Homo sapiens: one gene and its partners. The protein of the gene in region 1 interacts with the protein of each later gene in a biochemical or structural test. Each region holds a gene or a part of one and is shown in the gene's direction. Other genes may lie near its edges.

What was found.
Region 2: the proteins of ABCG2 (region 1) and ENPP1 form a complex in vitro, tested with the Homo sapiens proteins (one study listed by IntAct).
Region 3: of the proteins of ABCG2 (region 1) and RNF126, one has a biochemical effect on the other in vitro, tested with the Homo sapiens proteins (one study listed by BioGRID).

What each region holds. Positions count from the first base shown.
Region 1 is NC_000004.12:88,089,686-88,092,710, reverse strand, and holds the end of ABCG2 (broad substrate specificity ATP-binding cassette transporter ABCG2), read left to right. Parts: intron 1-329; coding exon 330-477; 3' UTR 478-2,442; downstream 2,443-3,025.
Region 2 is NC_000006.12:131,880,974-131,884,727, forward strand, and holds part of ENPP1 (ectonucleotide pyrophosphatase/phosphodiesterase family member 1), read left to right. Parts: intron 1-1,371; coding exon 1,372-1,501; intron 1,502-2,720; coding exon 2,721-2,801; intron 2,802-3,754. UniProt on the Homo sapiens protein: Nucleotide pyrophosphatase that generates diphosphate (PPi) and functions in bone mineralization and soft tissue calcification by regulating pyrophosphate levels.
Region 3 is NC_000019.10:656,485-660,238, reverse strand, and holds part of RNF126 (E3 ubiquitin-protein ligase RNF126), read left to right. Parts: intron 1-3,754. UniProt on the Homo sapiens protein: E3 ubiquitin-protein ligase that mediates ubiquitination oF target proteins. Depending on the associated E2 ligase, mediates 'Lys-27'-, 'Lys-29'-, 'Lys-48'- and/or 'Lys-63'-linked polyubiquitination of substrates.

The sequences.
Region 1 (3,025 bases):
ATAAATTTGAGTAGGCTAAAAACTTGGTGATTCAAAGTATGACTCTGTAAACCTGGTCAAGTTCCTTAAACGTTAGTCCCCTCATCTTTTAAGTGTGTACAATGTCTATCACATTGGATTGTTTTAGGAATTAACTAAGTTAGGTCCATGTTGTTTGTTAGTGTCTAGCAAAATTGTAAACACACAATGACTGTTAGCTATGATATCTGAAGGGGTAATTATTAAAGGCTTGGTTCAATTTTAGGCTCCTTTAAGGAACAGTGGATATACTGAGTAACATTTGACGGATGCTAGGAATGAAGTTATATTCTTTTTCTGTTTAATTTCAGATGTACTGGCGAAGAATATTTGGTAAAGCAGGGCATCGATCTCTCACCCTGGGGCTTGTGGAAGAATCACGTGGCCTTGGCTTGTATGATTGTTATTTTCCTCACAATTGCCTACCTGAAATTGTTATTTCTTAAAAAATATTCTTAAATTTCCCCTTAATTCAGTATGATTTATCCTCACATAAAAAAGAAGCACTTTGATTGAAGTATTCAATCAAGTTTTTTTGTTGTTTTCTGTTCCCTTGCCATCACACTGTTGCACAGCAGCAATTGTTTTAAAGAGATACATTTTTAGAAATCACAACAAACTGAATTAAACATGAAAGAACCCAAGACATCATGTATCGCATATTAGTTAATCTCCTCAGACAGTAACCATGGGGAAGAAATCTGGTCTAATTTATTAATCTAAAAAAGGAGAATTGAATTCTGGAAACTCCTGACAAGTTATTACTGTCTCTGGCATTTGTTTCCTCATCTTTAAAATGAATAGGTAGGTTAGTAGCCCTTCAGTCTTAATACTTTATGATGCTATGGTTTGCCATTATTTAATAAATGACAAATGTATTAATGCTATACTGGAAATGTAAAATTGAAAATATGTTGGAAAAAAGATTCTGTCTTATAGGGTAAAAAAAGCCACCGTGATAGAAAAAAAATCTTTTTGATAAGCACATTAAAGTTAATAGAACTTACTGATATTCCTGTCTAGTGGTATAATATCTCAGGAATCTTGGCTGAGGGTTTGGAACTGTGGGTAGAGTAGAGGGCCAGGAGTCCAGTAATAGAATTCTTGCACCATTTCTGGAACATTCTAGCTCTGGGAGGTCACGTAACCTTCTTGGGGTAGTTCAGTGGTTTAGTGGTTTATAATCCAGGTGTGCGTCAGAATCATCTGAGGAACTTTGCTAAAATACAAAAATCTGGCCTAAGTAGCTCCAGATCTACCTTCATAAAGGAATCTGACCACTCCTGGATTTGGTAATTTCCAAGTTCTGAAAATTTTACTTAGGATTTAATAACTATTAACATCTGTCCCTACATAGGTTTTCTTTCCTACTTATATACCTTATGTTCTCTTCATTCTAACCTTCATCAGTAATAGGGAAATGTTTTAATTTTATTTTTTTAGTTGAAGGGTAATGTACCAAAAAATATAGTTCAGTGAATTAAAATGAACACACATGTGCAACCATCAATTCAGGTCAAGAAATAGAAGATTGTAGCACACAAAAGCCTACTCAGCCATTCTCCCAGTCACTACTTCCTTCCTTACCCCTGGGTTATTTTTGAAATGACACTTGATGTATTTCCCTCTGTTGCTGTTATGAGAACATTGCTACAGCCAAGTGTTGTGTTTCTGTGTGCATAGGTTGATACTTAATTATCTCCCCACTTTTTAATAAACTTTTAATTTGGAAATAATTTTAGATTGACAGAAAAGTTGCAAAGATAGTGAGGAAAGTTCCTGTCTACTCTTTGCTCAGCTTCCCTTAATGTTAACATTTTATATAGCAAGATGCATTTGTCAAAGCTAACAAGTTAACATTGGTACAATCACTGTTAATTAAACTGCACACAATATTCAGATTTCACCACTTTTCCACTAATATTCTTTCATTGTTCTAGGATTCAATTCAGGAGACCACATTTCATCTAGCCCTCTTTTTTAAAAGTAAATACTTTTCAGCACTTACAGGAGTTAACTGAGCTGGGGCATCATGGTGTATAGACGCCCTGACACTGGTCATCTTGGAATTCATTTAGTTTGTCAGTGGGTGCCCTGACATTCTGTCACAACATCAATTTGGGAACATGGCATTATATTTTTATCTTTGAACTTTTTTCTTTTTGGATGACATTTGATTAATGCGTCATCTTGGAACACATTATCTTTTTTCTTGGTTATGTGATCAGGAAGATTAATCAGTTTTTCCTGTTCTTGGTATAATTCCTGCTTTTCACATACCTGTCCCTTACAGTTCTCTATATATACCCTTCCCTTATTACACAGAGAGAAATATCTATCTATACTTTTTACACAAAATATACTTCAAAAGAAACAAAACAGCCACAATTATTAACTTTTTAAATAAATGAGAATTTAATTATATCCTATTTTATGTATTCTTTTTTTATATTAAAATTACCTTTATATGCTTTTGTTGTGGTAGGAACCAGATAACATAAAATTTACCATCTTAACCATTTTAAAATTAAGGACTTTTTTTTTTTTTTTTTTTTTGAGATAGAGTCTCGCTTTGTCGCCCAGGCTGTGGTGCAGTGGCGCGATCTCGGCTCACTGCAAGCTCCGCCTCCCGGGTTCATGCCATTCTCCTGCCTCAGCCTGTAATGGCTGGGACTACAGGCTCCCGCTACCACGCCCGGCTAATTTTTTTTTTTTTGTATTTTTAGTAGAGACAGGGTTTCACTGTGTTAGTCAGGATGGTCTCCATCTCCTGACCTCGTGATCCACCCGCTTCGGCCTCCCAAAGTGCTGGGATTACAGGCCTGAGCCAGCGCGCCTGGCCAGGAACTTTTTTTAAAGTATGGTTTATTTTCTTATAAAGTAGAAATGTACTTAAGGATATAGATATCCATATATATTATATGTACCCTATATATTATATATATTCTCTGTATTTTTATATCCTCTCTATATATTATATCCTATATATAATTTCTATCTATATAAT
Region 2 (3,754 bases), on another chromosome or scaffold:
GGAGATGGTGCTGGAAAGAGAGAAGGGGGAAGATGAGATTTTGATCTTACGTGGAATTGAAATTTTAAACTGGGCTGAAACTGAAAGTGACTGGCAAGGTACAGGATGCCCTAAGGGAACGACAAAGGGATTTGAGAGAGCATAGTGGAGGGCAGCAGTTTGATTTAAAAAATAAAATGATTTTTACTAATCAGTGAGACAACCAAATAAAAAGATAGGGATATGTCTGTTTATATATAATTTCTATGTTACAAATATATAATACACACATATATTTATATAAAATTTCTTGAACTTTGATTTTTAAAATTTTTCAATACTGTCTTCAAACACCAAACACTTAAAAAAATTTTTGACTTTGTAATTGATCAGTCTACACCATTTTTCATAGGCACCCCATCCTATTTATTAATATTTATACCTTAATTATGGGTTCCTTGATTCCATTTTCAGTTTTCTTATGTAATTAAAATGCATAACTTTACAGTCATTGCGATGCTTGAGGTTTTTACATTGCTGTTCGGTGACTGTCCTCCTTTGCTCCAGCAACTTTTGGCAGTGTAGTTGACTATGGAAGATAGACTCAGATCTCTAAAAATCAACATTTTACTATATAAAAGCTTAAAATTGACCAGCGCGGTGGCTCACGCCTGTAATCCCAACACTTTGGGGGGCTGAGGAGGGCAGATCACGAGGTCAGGAGTTCGAGACCATCCTGGCTAACATGGTGAAACCCTGTCTCTACTAAAAATACAAAAAATTAGCCAGGCGTGGTGGGTCACACCTGTAATCCCAGCACTTTGAGGGGGCTGCAGCGGATGGATCACCTGAGGTCAGGAGCTCAAGACCAGCCTTGCCAACATGGTGAAACCCCATCTCTACCAAAAACACAAAAATTAGCCAGGCGTGGTGGCAGATGCCTGTAGTCCCAGCTACTCGGGAAGCTGAGGCAGGAGAATCGCTTGAACCTGGGGGGCAGAGTTGCGGTGAGCCGAGATTGCGCCGCTGCCCTCTAGTCTGGGTGACAGAGTGAGACTCCATCTTAAAAAAATAATAATAATAAATAAATAAATAAATAAATAAATATTTAAAATTGTGTAGATAAAATCATTCTAAACATTATTTCATATTAGCATAGCAGAATCTGAAAATATTTGCATAAATATGACAATTAATATCTTTAATATTGTAAAGCATTTTTACACTTTAGTTAGAAAAAAAGATGAATATACTAGTAGGAAAATAGGGAAGGACATGAGCTGACAGCTAGAGCTTCATAATTTTATGATGTAGTTCACCTTTAAATATTAATAAAGCAATTTTCTTCTCTGTGCCTGATATCTGAGAGTTCTTCTCATTTTCGTTCTTCAGGACAGTTTCTCTACGGAAGACTTCTCCAACTGTCTGTACCAGGACTTTAGAATTCCTCTTAGTCCTGTCCATAAATGTTCATTTTATAAAAATAACACCAAAGTGAGTTACGGGTTCCTCTCCCCACCACGTAAGTTTTTTCCTCTCCTGACCTTCCCTTTTCTCCTTTTTGTTTTCTTTCTTGTTTATAAATCCTACCATACATTATAGGGTAATATATATATTACCTATTATATATATATAAATATTACCTATTTTATATATATATTATATATATAATATATATAAAGTATATATATTACTATTTTATATATATATAGCTATATATATATAGCTTTGTTTATTTATTGGTGAAAAATTGTGGATTTGGTCTAGAACTACCAAGGGAAAAATTTTAATCATCTAAAACTTGAATTTTATAAAATTTTCTTTTTGTTGGGAGGGTAGTTGATGTAGTGCAGATATGGTAAGCAGAACACTTCATGGTTCCTTTCTGCATTTCTTTTAAACAATTTGAGAATATTGTGAAGGTGGAATATATATATCAAGTTGGAAGAATATATCAAGGTTCTTAGGAAGATAACTTTGTTAGGATAAATAACTTTGTTGTTTAAAAAGAAAATGCGTTTGTCAGAGAAGTAGGTAAAGGTAGAGGCTTACATATGCTTGCTTTTTCACTGATCCAGAATCTCTAGGGAATGGCTTTTTTGAAGCTAAGTATTCTATTTTTTGAAATGGCAAATTTGTATGTTGATGAGAAGCCATTTTGGGGCCAGCCTTAAAAGGCAAAAATCAGAAAGCTCCAGGTGCTCAACTACCGTCAGCATCCAGTTCAGTTCCCAGAGTATGTGTCTGAAGTCAGAACTTGGCTATTGCATTATAAAAATAGACCAGGTCCAAGCCTCAAATTCATACAGAGAAGCCTTGTATGGTGTTTCGAGACAGACATCCTGTGATGTTTTTTCTGGGTAGCAGGTGTTGTTCTGGAGCCAGATGTTCTCTTTTTTCTTTTCACTGTGAAAAAGTGTAAGGAAAGAAGATTGTCAACACAATTCCTTTTAGTTGAAATGAGGGCAATAACGTTTGAATATGTTTAATTTGGGGCTCTTGTTATTAAAGTTTATGTTTCGTTGACATGCTCATCTTGAAAAGACTTCTTAAATATTTTATTTTTGTAAAGGACTTGACCAAACACATTACATTTTCCCTTGACCCTGTACTTGGGAAAGTTTTACAGGTTTAAGATGGTACTCAGCTAATTTTTAAAAATGCTCCCCTAACCATGAGAAACTATAATTTCCTATGTTATTTGTGAAGAATGAAAAAGTTGTCCTCTTTTCTCTTTGTAGAACTAAATAAAAATTCAAGTGGAATATATTCTGAAGCTTTGCTTACTACAAATATAGTGCCAATGTACCAGAGTTTTCAAGGTAAATAATGTTAACTCTATATTTGATAATTTTAATGAATTTGTGCACATATAGGCATAATTCATATGTAATAGGACTTATGGTCTAAATTAAATGAATTAATACCAAATACATTCTTAAAGGTTTAACTTTGAGAATACTAGTACACAAAAATTCTACAAATTATTAGAATTATCATGTATTCTAATTGTATAATTGTTTGCAAACAGTTTTGGTGAGAAAGTATGTGATGCGCTTCCTAAAGTTATCCAGCTAATACAGTCTGCTAACACTTATATTAACTTTCATTCGGCTTCCTTATTTAACTTTTTGGAAGTTCTTGATAATTGTCTATGTTTTCAAATGAATAGATTTTACATCATCATTAACTATTGCAGCATTTGACTTTTACAGGAATAAAAATTTAGTTACTTAAATTGATGTATAGAATATCAAAATATAAGCATATAAGGAGTTTTTAGTCTAATTTATATCTAGAATACTTGTGAATATTTCAAAGTTAATATTCAGATATTAATAGGAAATCGGAATAATATGCCTTGTTTGTGTTTGCGATGTTGCTATGCTTAATGATGACATATGATCACAATTTCAACATGATGTACTTGTTCAGGGATGTCTCAAAGAGAGTTGGGTTCAACGTTTGTCTGTGAGTCCTTTCAAAGGCCAAAGCTGAACAATGAATTTTTGGCCTCACACTAAGATTAGAGCCAAGGCTGGGTGTGGTGGCTCATGCTTGCAGTCCCAGCCCTTTGGGGAGTCCAACTCAGAAGGACTGCTTGAGGCCAGGAGTTCAAGATCAGCCTGGGAAACAGTGAGATCTGGTGTCTAGTCTCTACAAAAAATTTTAATTAGCTGGGCATGGTGATGTGCACCTGTAGTCCTAGCTATTCTGGAGACTGAGGCAGGAGCATCTCTTGACCCCAGGAGTTTGAGGCTGCAGTGAGCTATGA
Region 3 (3,754 bases), on another chromosome or scaffold:
ATGCGATTCGCTCCCCGTGGCATCTGGTGGGCACGTGTGTGCAGAGTGGCCGGCACCTGGCCGCTCTCCTGGTGACTCGTGAGGGTGTCCTGAGCGGGGAGCCACACTTGCGGTCGGGGGCTCAGGCGACGACGGCACAGGGGCAGCAGTTGCCCCCATGAAAGGCTGTGATGAGGCCGAGCGCGGTGGCTCACGCCTGTGGTCCCATCGCTTTGGGAGGCTGAGGTGGACGGATCACCTGAGGTCAGGAGTTCGAGACCAGCCTGGCTAACATGGTAAAACCCCATCCCTACTAAAAATACAAAAGATTGGCCAGGCGTGGTGGCAGGCACCTGTAGTCCCAGTGACTTAGGAGGCTGAGGCGGGAGAATTGCTTGAACCTGGAAGGCGGAGGTTGCAGTGAGCCGAGATTGTGCCACTGCAGTCCAGCCTGGGTGACAGAGCAAGACTCCTTCCAAAAAAAAAAAAAAAAGGCGATGACGAGGGTGTCTGGGTGTCTGAGCAGCAAAGGGAGCGTCAGCCAGAGTGGGGCGTGTGGCGGCAGGAACCAGACAGGCCAGCTGGAGCTCAGGCCACAGGCGGCTGCGCAGACCCAGACTCGAGCCTGCTGAGGAGGCACTGACTGGAGCTGTGACTGTAGGGTGTGGGCGAGAGCTGCTGAGGGCACTGAGCCCCCAGGAACCAGGCGGGCGCAGGGAGGTGGCCCTGCGTGCCGTCCTTGCCCCTGACCTCCCCGTCTCTGGGTGGTTCCTAGGGTGGTTCCAGCTCTGCCTGCCGACCCCCCACCCCCGAACGCCTGCAACCTCCGCAGTGTCCCCAAGTGGCGGTGAGAGGACGGTGGGGGTGCTGGGCCCTGCCGCCCACGGTGGCGGGGAAGAGCCGGCGTGGGCGGGGAGCCACCAGGAAGTGAGGGCTGCTACGGCCAGTGTCACTGATGGGGCCAGGCGGGAAGTCTCCCCAGCTGCCCCCCGGCCCACCCTGTCTTCTCCTGGTCCCTGCGGCGGCCTGGCCCGAGTCTTCAGAAGACGGCCTGGGTCTGTCTCTGGCCGCTGCTTGCTCTGTGTGTCTGCGGTTGTGCCAGATACCGTGACAGTGACAGCCTGCCCCTGCCTCTCAAGCGTCCGGCCAGCACCCTGGAGCGGCTCTGCACAGCTGGGTTCTCCGGAACGGGCTCCCTGCAGCACCCTGTGAACATGGAGCCTGGCGTTGTGATCGGGCACCAGCAATACCCCGGGAACCTGTGGATGTCGGCTGCCCTCTCTGGCCGGCTGGCGCTGGGGTCTGCCTCGGGCAGATGCCGGTGCTGAATTTCCTCCCACTTAGAACTCTGCCACCATGAGGACCTTCCTCTGAGCCTCGGGCGAGCCGTAGCACCCCTGGCACTGGCACGGATGGGCACCTGTGGGGTTCCAGTCCCTAGTGGTGGTGCCTGAAGCCACCTGGGAAGAAGAAGGCAGAGTTCGGGGCCTGGGCCGAGGCACGCCCTGGGGTGTGAGGCGGGGCCCCAGCCTGGGCTGAGGCAGTGGCTTCGCTCACGCCTCGTCCATCCAGCTTGTCTTGGGAGTGTGTGGTGCGTGGGGCCCAGGGACAGACGGTGTGAATGTGGGATGTGGTGGCAGCTGCTGAGGGCGGGAAGAAAGGGGTGCAGGCGCCGCACGTGCCCGTGCCTCTGGGGCTGCGGGGCCCACACACTGTGGATCAGCCGGGAAGCTTTGGGCACCCTTTAGGAAAACAGTAGCCAGCACGGGGGCTCCTACCGAGGCCGAGCACTGCACCATGACTCTCCCTGGGGTCTCCTGATGTGCACAGCTTCCCGAGGGCCCTGCCACCCACAGGGGCCGAGTCACTGTCACCAGGGGCCTGCCTGCCCTGGTCACTGTCAGTCATCTGGGGCCTGTAGGTCGCCAGCCCACTCCCCTCCATGCGCCTGGCCCTGGGCCCTCAGGACATGCGCCCCGTGCAGGCCCCGTGGATGAAGGGGCCTCTGCTGCCCTGCCAGGTCCCACCCGGGGATGAGGCCATCACGCTGCAGGGGTGCATGGGTGGAGCCCGGCACTGGCAGGGTCCCCCCTACCCTGGCTGCCTGGCCAGCTGTTGCTATGGTGATGATGCCGGGTGATCGTACCTCCTGCATCTGTTCTCTGACGGAGAGGTGAATGGATTCACCGTCTTCTGCTAGGGCCAGAGGCTCCAATGGGGCCTCTGTGGGGGCCCCCAGTGCGTGCTGCCCCCGGAGAAGGTGGGGCAGCTCCTTCACCAGGCCCCCTTGCCCAGGCGTTTCTACCTGCAGCTGCCCCGATTTAATACGAGACCAAGCGGTCTCTTGGCTGTGCCCTTGGAGGAGGAGGGCGGCTGGAGACCCCCAGGTCCAGCCCCTCCCACCGTCGGCCAGCAGAGGCTCAACCTCCACCCTGGATATCCGGGATCCACCTGTCACTTGCCTTCGTGACCAGAGCCTCGGTTCCGGCCTTCGGTGGCCCTGGAGGGGCTGGCCGGGGGCCTGAGAGACAGCCCAGAGCCCTGACAATACGCAGGAGTTGGGTCGCAGCCCTTGGCGTCCTCGATGGCACCCGGATTTCAGATATGAGTGAGTGTCCAGGCTGTCCTCTGTGACAGGGCAGAGGCTTGGAGCAGAGAGGTGACCTTTGAAACCCCTAGGGTGGGCGTTCCAGCAGCAGGGCCGACGTGCACAGGCCCCGACGCTGGAGTGGGTGCTGCAGAGAGAGGGTTCTGGACAGTGCTGTGGCACCAGGCCCCACGGCCGCTGCGGGCAGGACAGCGGGGGCCAAGAGGAGGCCAGGGCTGGGGCAGATGAGTGTGTATGTGGCCAGGTCGGGCTGTCGTGAGCCGGCAGTGCGGGTGGCGGGAGCATGCGTTGTGCCCTGGACTGAGACGGGAACCCGGGAGCCCGACAGAAAGCCAGTGATGCACAGAGGGGCTGAGCTCGGCACATGGGGACCAGAGCGGCCGAGCGCTGTGCCAGGCCACGTGGGCGTGTGCAGGGCCTCGTGCTTGTCCAGGAGAGATTCGGGGCTGGGGCTGGCAAGCCAGGGTCCTCAGAGGGAGACAGCTTCTCCCTCAGGCCCTTCTGGGGCTGCCTGACCTTGTGGATGCACCCAGCAGGAGAGATGGTGGTCGGGGCAGCTGCACAGCTGACTTACGTCCTGCCCTCAGTGGGGGCCAGTGCAGCTGTTCCAGGTCCACTGGGTGGTGCTAGCCTGGGGAGTCACCATGCAGGGAGAGCCTGAGCCCTGAGCTACCCCTCCATTCCCAGAGACCCACCCAGGCGATGGAGCGGCCCTGGGCTCCCGGTCAGCTGGCGGGCGGACGGCGGCAACCCCTGAGCCCAGAGGAGCCCCGATAGACCCGACACCGGCAGAAACCAGGGGTTCAGATTTGACTGTGAAGTCTCAGCGTGTTTACGTGGGGCGTCCCAATCCCGACACCCCAAACACACCCCAAGAACCGACGCCTGGGGAGAGTTGTCACGGCCACTGTGGCAGAGCCACACTGCTCCCACACTAAGCTCAGGGCCACAGTGGTGGTCGTTGGCTGCTTCCCCTTCCCCTTTCCCTTTTTCTTTTTCTTTTTCTGACACGGTCTCACTCTGTGGCCCAGGCTGGAGTGCAGTGGTATGATCTCGGCTCACTGCAACCTCTGCCTGCCGGGTTTAAGCGATTCTCGTGCCTCAGCTCCTGAGTAGCTGGGATTACAGGCACCCACCACCGTGCCCAGCTAATTTTTGTATTTTTAG